Linked DNA regions of Homo sapiens. The protein of the gene in region 1 interacts with the protein of each later gene in a pairwise test. Each region holds a gene or a part of one and is shown on either strand. Other genes may lie near its edges.

Region 1 (4,158 bases):
CATGGCTTCACTCCAAAATCGCAGGATCATTCCAGACCAGGCCCCGCACCTCAGCCAGTCTTCCCCTTCCAGACCCCGCAGGACTGCTCTAGCCCAGGTCTCTGCAGCCCTACCTAATGTGGCCAGACGACCCACATGCTTCCACGTCCCCTGGACGCCCTAAACCGCAGACTCAGCTCCCTGGGCTGACCTCCTCCTCCACTGGGTGCAAAGACCAAGAGCTGGGAGCTCAGGAAGCATGTTCCAGGCTGGCTGGGGCTACGTGGGGGCTTTACCGGGCCCAGGCGAGGGAGGGGCAGCACATGAGGAGGTCAGCGTTCACCCCCCAGCACCACCTTCTCCAGCCATTGAAAGAGGACCCTGGCCAAAAGAAACCAAGACTTTGGCTAAGAGTTCCACCTTCCAGCCCCACTCTGCTCTCCAGCCCCCGCGGGGCACTGTCCATCTGTGACAGTCCATGAGCTCTTCCCGGCTCCGCCAGGAGATGCAGGTCACCAGGGCTCCAGTGCCCCGGCTCCCTCAACACCACGGAGATCCGAGGCCTCCAGCCGAGCAAGAGCGGGGCATCAGGGTGACTGTGGGGAGAAGCTCCCGTCCACCTGCCCGGTACTAGCTGTGGGACCCAGCAGGCTGAGGACCCCCTTGTTCCCCAGCCGTGCCCTGGAATAATGAGGACACTGGTTCCAAAGTGCTGCTGTGAGGCGAAGGTGTCAATGCCTGTAAAGCATTCCAAGCGGATGCAGCTATGCCGTCGGGGACTGGCTTCCTCAGGTAGGGTTCATGTGAAGATGTACACTGGCTAGGAGGCGGCCACCCGGGGCACTCCCACTTCCTGGGGTTCTTTCTAAGACCACCCTGGCATCCAGGTGACAGGGATGGAGCTGGCGACGGCTGGGTGCAGCCCGGGAAGGGACCCTAACCTGGATCCCTGAGCCACATTAGCTCGGGAATGGTGACCTCTGTCACCGGGAGGGGCTGGCTGTGCTCAGGTGGGCACGGCCCCTCCCTTGGGGAAAAGCCAGGCCTGATTCGGGGTCCCCTGGAGAGCGTCCCTCTCCCAGGGTTGAAGGCATGGTGCAGGTGTGCAGGCCCGGTCGTGCCCGCCGTGACCCCCTTGTCCTCGCGCCCAACTCGCCCCCCTCTCCCACCTCTCAGTGCCTGGGCTCACCTGGCGCTCGTTGTGCTTTCCGTGGATCTCCACAAAGTCGTCCTGCACCTTCACGGTGAGGTCCTCCGGGGAGAAGTGCTTCACATCGAGGAAGATGACGAACTTGTCCCGGTCGGATCGAACCTGAAATCCAAACGTGCCATGTGGAGCTGCCCAGAGGGTGCCGTCCCTGCTGGGGTTGGCAGAGACAGGGCGGGTCCCGGTTATCAGAACAGAGATGCTTCGGTCACCTGCCGGCCTCTTCTCCCACACACCAAGTGGGGCAGAGCTTTCGGGGGCCTGTGACTGTCTCCTGGACAGACAGGCATGACCCTCGACCTGTCTCCAAACCCTCAGGGCCAGCTGAGGGGCTGAATGCTACTGGTGGGCCGGCTGGTTGTTTGGCTATGGTCAGGTGGCTGGTTATAGATAAGTTGGCTGGTTATGGGCTGGCTGGCTACTGGTTATGGTAGGAGGGGTCGTTACGGGTTGGTTGGTCCGTTAGGGTCAATCGTCTGGCTGGTGATGCTTGGCTGGCTGGCTGGACTCAGCCTGTGGAATGAGGTCACTGCCCTTGGTGTCATGCTGTCTATAGAAGCGGCCGGAGCCTGCTGACAGCCTGCGCAGCTGCCTCTCCAAAACGCACTTCCACATGCTCCTTCTCACTCCCCTGGCTCAGCCTTGGCTCCCTGAGGCATTTTGCACCCTGGCGTTGATGCCTACTGCAGCAGCCCTGGGGAGGACCCTGTTTATGAGGTGCTGGGTGGGACTCAGGCCCTCCAGAACAGCAGAACCTGCACCGCTCACCCGTGGCTCAGAGAGGAGGCCTGTGGTTGGGTGGGGGGGGGGGCGTCCATTGCCTGTCCTTTTAGCCTTGGCAGGGCACCTAAGTAAACTTGCCAAGAGCTTTGCTAGCCGTGGGCAGGCCGAGCTCATTGGAGGAGGTGCTAGGAACGCCCTGCTCTCTGGCTTTCAGGACTATGACCCCCACCTGCTCCCAGGTCTCCGGGACTCAGGAGACCAGAGGAACCCGGGAGCTGGCATTCGCCACCACGCATGCCTGGATGGGCTGCTCTTGGGGTTTCCAGTATGTGGCTGGTGCCTTACAAAGCACACATGGGTCATGAGCTGATGGAGGAAAGCAAAGGTGGATTCAGGCTGCTCCCTTGTCCACCCTCTCCCCAGTGCCAGGGGAAGCTCTGCCACGTGGCTGCAGTGGGGACACAGGCTCTCGCCCAGCCTCTGCAAGGGGATGAAGTGGGACGAGGCCACCTGCCTGACGGAGCAAGACCAGAGTCCATCGCTCTCCACCCACCGAGGCCACCACCCTCTGAGCAGCGAGGAGAGGCCAGCACCACGGGCCACGTCTTACCTCAGAGATGCCGGAGTCCAGCACGGTGCGGAAGAGGGACTGGCGGTAGTAGGGGCTGATGGTGGACGACAGGAAGGGCAGCAGGTCATACTCAAAAAGGCCCTCGCCGAAAAACTGGTCGAACAGCCGGCTGGGGTAGAAGGGCCCCAGGGTGCGCTTGAACCAGGGGTGCTGGATGGTCACGTCCATGTTCAGCTTTGGTACCACGGGGACCTGGAGGCTGGCAGGAGTCAGCGGGGCCTCTGGGCAGCGCAGTGTGGAGCCAAGGCCGAGCCCTCCCTATATATGCCACCAGCAGAATGGAGGCATTAAGGGATTTCTCTGGAAAGGCGTGAGCTCATGAAGAAGGCTGCTCAGTCAGCAGAAACGTGGCTGGGACAAGTGCCCGCCCCCAGCCCCAGGAGGGGCTGCACGGACTGTCCCCGAGGCCTGGACTCAGCTGAGGCCCGCCTGGGCACCCTGGGGCTCCCGGGAGGGCAGACAACCCAAGGAGGCGCCTGTGCCCCATACTCGCCTGGGGCGACAATGGAGCTTCTCATCTGCCAGTCACTGGGCAGGGGCTACGTGCCAGGGACCATGCTAGTTCTCTGCACACCTTGTCCTGCCGGGGTGGTCCTCATGGTCGCCAGAGGAGGGAGAGCACACACCCCCGTTAGACACAGAGGTTAGACACATCGTCCTCAGAGTCTCACCGGGCCTGGGCAAGAGTGCACTGGTTTCCAAAGCGGAGTGCATCTGTGAACCTCCGTTACACTCACCACTTACAAAAGTACGCATGCTTGTTAAAACTCGTGGAGAAGAAGCTGCAAGGTGCCATAATTCCAGCACCTGGGGGAGCCCTATGGCGTTTCATGCTTGTCCTCCAGGGGTCACATGCCTCCAACAGGAAGACGGGCTGGGCTGTGGGCAGATGAGAGCACCACGTGGTGAGCTTCCCTCTGCGGCCCACCCTGGACGCCCAGCCCCATGGCCATCGTCCCCTCGATGTAACGCCTCGAGCGTTACATCTCGTAATGATGTAATGCCTTGATGTAACATCCCCACGTAACGCCTCGAGCCTCCGTGGCATGACCTGCCGTGGCTGTTGAGTTGGGCTGCTCCTGTCAGGGTGGCGACATGTCCCCACGTCCCTGTCACCCATGCGGACCCACCACCCACATGATCCTGTTATCCACAAGTCCTGGTGATTATTTTGCTCCTCGACCCATGGCCCCTGTCCAGTTCTCACTAAGTGTCCAGGCACTCCCGGTTTTGTTTGTTTGTTTTTGAGATGGAGTCTTGCTGTGTCACCCAGAGTGGCGCCCAGATCATATAGTGGCGCGATCTCAGCTCACTGCAACCTCTGCCTCCCAGGTTCAAACAATTCTCCCACCTCAGCCTCCTGAGTAGCTGAGACTGCAGGTGCCTGCCACCACACCTGGCTAATTATTATTATTATTATTATTATTATTATTTTTGTATTTTTAGTAGAGACAGGGTTTCACCGTGTTGGCCAGGCTGGTCTCAAACTCTTGACCTCAGGTGACCCACCTGCCTTGGCCTCTCAAAGTGTAGGATTACAGGCGTGAGCCACTGCACCTGGCTCACTCCTAGTTTTAAGTCTTTTGATATTTTGGTATTTTGATATTTTGGTAAACTG
Region 2 (3,500 bases), on another chromosome or scaffold:
GAGCTACTTATAGTCTTTCTTACCACACTTGGTTTGACTGTTTCATACATTCTGCGGGAGAAATATGAAAGTGTTTGAAAATGGGGCACTGCCTTAGACCCCTGCGGCCACGTCATGCCATAGCATGCACTCAGAATCCCCATTCGGGTCTTGCCCCAAAGGCTCTGGATGAGGGATTATGGACCCAAAATAGTCCAGACTAATATGTAAACAGGATTCTAGCATTTATTAAATATATCCCCTTATATTCTCGTTGCATCCCCCAATAACCAGTTGTAAGCCTACTTGCCTATACTGGGATCCCAGTTTTACAGGTGAGGAGGCTGAGGCTCAGCAAGACTTCATGACTGGCCGAGCCACAAAGAGAACCCAGGACTCTCAACTCCTGGGCCAGCGCTCTTCCCAGCCCTGGGCCATCCGTGCCGATCATCCAGGGACCTATGGGAATGTGAATTCCCTGCAGCTCTGTATTATTACTAGGTAGTTGGCCCAGTGTTCTGGAGAAAGACATACCCCAAATAGGTCACAATTTTGTATTTGGTCAGCTCTTCGCTTAGCACCTTTACCCCACCGTCAGTGATCTGGTTTACGCTGAGTCTGAAATAAAACAGCAAAAAAATTACGAGTCAGGGCAGGCACTCATTATGAAGGACCATTAATCTTACAAAGATCCAGAAGCCTTCAGGCCCTGGAGTTTTCTCAGGTATAGACGCCCCTGGAGAATGGCCACAGCAATCAGCCAAATAGCCCCTTACAAAGCCTGGCCAACGTGGGGCCGCCAGACCCATCCTGCACCAGCCCATGAGCGAGGCTGCAGCACAGCCCCTGGCTCCTCACACGACCGTGAAGGACACAGGGAGGACGTGTGAGGCCAGCCACCTCTGACATCCACCCTTTGCGTGTGACCTATGTGTCAGCCAGACCCTGTACCTGGTTCTCGTATGGTGGAGGGCATGGGTTTGGAAATGTCAGGGGCTGCTTTTAGTGGTTGTGACTGGAGGAGGGAGTGCCCTGTCATCTTGCAGGCAGGGCCAATGATGTTAGGTGTCCTGCAAAATGCTGGACAGGTCTCACAAGAACTGTTATACCCAAAATGCCAACAGCTTCCCCCCATCCAGAAACACATGGGCTAACCCTGATTTGTCACTGGAAAAGGCTGTGAGTCCCACTGTCAAAGGAGACTGCTCATGTCATTCTGTAAAGTGTCAGACAGCAAATATTTTAGGCTCTGTGGGCCATGTGGTCTCTGTCACAGCTACTCAACTGTGTAGTGTGAAGCAGCCAGTAAGTAAATAAATGGGTATGGCTGCGTTCCAATAAAACTTTACTTAGAAACACAAGCCTTGGGCCCAATTAGACCCACAAGCTGACCTTGATAACAAGTAAAAGGCTGAACAATTAAAAGCTTGATTTTTAGGCCACATCAAAATGATCAAGTCAGACACTCTGGACCCTTTCCCTCAGAGTCCCCAGCTTGGTGCTGGGAAATAGTGTGTATGTACATGGCATGGCCAGCCCAAGACAGCACAGGCTGCTAGACATTCCCAATATCTATACTTTCTTAGCAATAGATTCCCCCATCTTTTAGCTGGGCCCATCTCATTAAATTCTGCCCATACCATTAAGTTCTGAAATCTAAGCAGCAATATAATTAGTAATAGCCAAGAAGTGTTCTTAAAAGATTGAGGCATGCTCTCAATCTTTGCCCTTCCTTCTTACTGATAGCTAGAGTGTCGACTAGATGGCTGGAGTTTGAGCAGCCCTCTTGGGCCAAGATGGGAAAGCCGGGTAGTGAGGATGGCAGAACAGGAAGGCAGAAGAGAGCCTGGGCTCCGGAGGGTCATGGAGACTCCATACCAGTCCTGAACTACCTACCTCTAGACTTTTACATGAGAGAAATAAGCTTGTAACTCACCAACATTTGGGGTTTTCGCTCTCAGCTAAAACTAATCCTAACTGATGCAGCCAGAGAACTGAGTGTGCTTCCCGTGGTTACCCATATCCTCTGCTTTCCTACAAGCTGTTTTTTCTTGCACTGGTGTGAAGGAAAGCTTCACCTGGGGACAGCAGGAAGGGCAGGGCCACCACACTGGTGTGGAGTTTCCCATTGAAAAGATGGACAGAGGGGTCGGGTGCGGCGGCTCATGCCTGTAACCCCAACATTTTGGAAGGCCGAGGCGGGCGGATCACCTGAGGTCAGGATTTCAAGACCAGCCTGGCCAACATGGGGAAACCCCGTCCTACTAAAAATACAAAAAACTTAGCCGGACATGGTGGCGTGTGCCTGTAATCCCAGCTACTCAGGAGGCTGGGGCAAGAGAATCGCTTGAACCCAGGAGGCGGAGGTTGCAGTGAGCTGAGATCACGCCACTGCACTCCAGCCTGGGCAACAGAGCGGGACTCCATTTGGGGGAGAAAAAAAAAAGATGGACAGAGGGTGGCACTGAGTGTGAGACTGCCTGGGGCTACAGAGGGAGAGTCACTGGCTGAGAGTACAGAGAACAGACTCCAGGTTTTCCAATTCCCAGGCTAGGGCAGCCTTCGACCCCCTGCACCCCATGTCCCCATGCAATTATTTACACTCTGACACTGGTGTGACAGGCACTGGGAGTCAGTTCCAAATCCCTACTGCTTTTTAGAAATGCATGAGTCAAGTAATGGCAAATTTAACCCCCTGTAGAGATTTACAAGGTTTATTTTACATAGGAAATGCTAATAGAAGAAAACAGACTGGGCTCTGTTTCCCGTAAACTATGGAACAGGAAAACAACCACGAGTCAGCATTTTAACTGAGGTCTCTAGCAGTGTGAAGGGCTGCTAGCGTTGATCACAGAAAGTCACCAGTGCCAACTGGCACAAGGTCTGCTTTCTCTGCAGTAATAAAAGCTCCCATATTCCAGAAACTTTTTGAGGGCTATCTCGGAGCCTTACATTAATCTTAAAAGGAAGGTTCTTTATGCATTCTGGCACTGCTATGTCTGAGCTGTGTGACCTAAAGCAAGCTATTAACTTCTCTGTGCCTCTACTTCCTTATCTGCCAAAATAGAGACAATAACAGTACCTAAGTTACAGGGTTGTAAAGAGCATTCCATTAGGTAATATTTGTAATGCACTTCACCCATTCTCAACTAACATTGGTCCCTGTGGCCATAATTGATAGGATTATGAGCATCTTCTTTTTCCAGATGAGGGCGTGGAGGCTCTGAGAGTTAAGCACTTTGTTCAAGGGCACCCAGCTGTGGCTGATCCAGGTCCACCTGCCTCGAAGCTTTGCACCTTGACCTCTGCCCTGCTAAGAAAGAAAAGGTCTGGACATTCCAAGGGCCATGGTCATGAGTCCTGGGGGATCCTGGTCCATGATGCCATTCCCGATGCCCTCCGAGCCTGGCCCGCCCGGCCCACCTGTTGCTCCCCTTGCCTGGCAGCCTCACCTGAGAACAGTGAGGCGGCTGAAGCAGGGCTGCAGCTCCCGCACGCCGTAGTCGTTGAGATTGTTGTTG

The links. The genes of interacting proteins can lie anywhere in the genome.
Region 2: the proteins of CRYAA (region 1) and NOD1 interact in binary tests that used the Homo sapiens proteins (3 or more experiments, as listed by UniProt).

What each region holds. Positions count from the first base shown.
Region 1 is NC_000021.9:43,167,650-43,171,807, reverse strand, and holds the start of CRYAA (alpha-crystallin A chain), read right to left. Parts: upstream 2,801-4,158; 5' UTR 2,709-2,800; coding exon 2,520-2,708; intron 1,573-2,519; exon of another isoform or gene 1,477-1,572; coding exon of another isoform or gene 1,399-1,476; intron 1,292-1,398; coding exon 1,169-1,291; intron 772-1,168; exon of another isoform or gene 226-771; intron 1-225. UniProt on the Homo sapiens protein: Contributes to the transparency and refractive index of the lens. In its oxidized form (absence of intramolecular disulfide bond), acts as a chaperone, preventing aggregation of various proteins under a wide range of stress conditions.
Region 2 is NC_000007.14:30,447,785-30,451,284, forward strand, and holds part of NOD1 (nucleotide-binding oligomerization domain-containing protein 1), read right to left. Parts: coding exon 3,432-3,500; intron 3,293-3,431; exon of another isoform or gene 3,134-3,292; intron 598-3,133; coding exon 514-597; exon of another isoform or gene 508-513; intron 1-507. UniProt on the Homo sapiens protein: Pattern recognition receptor (PRR) that detects bacterial peptidoglycan fragments and other danger signals and thus participates in both innate and adaptive immune responses.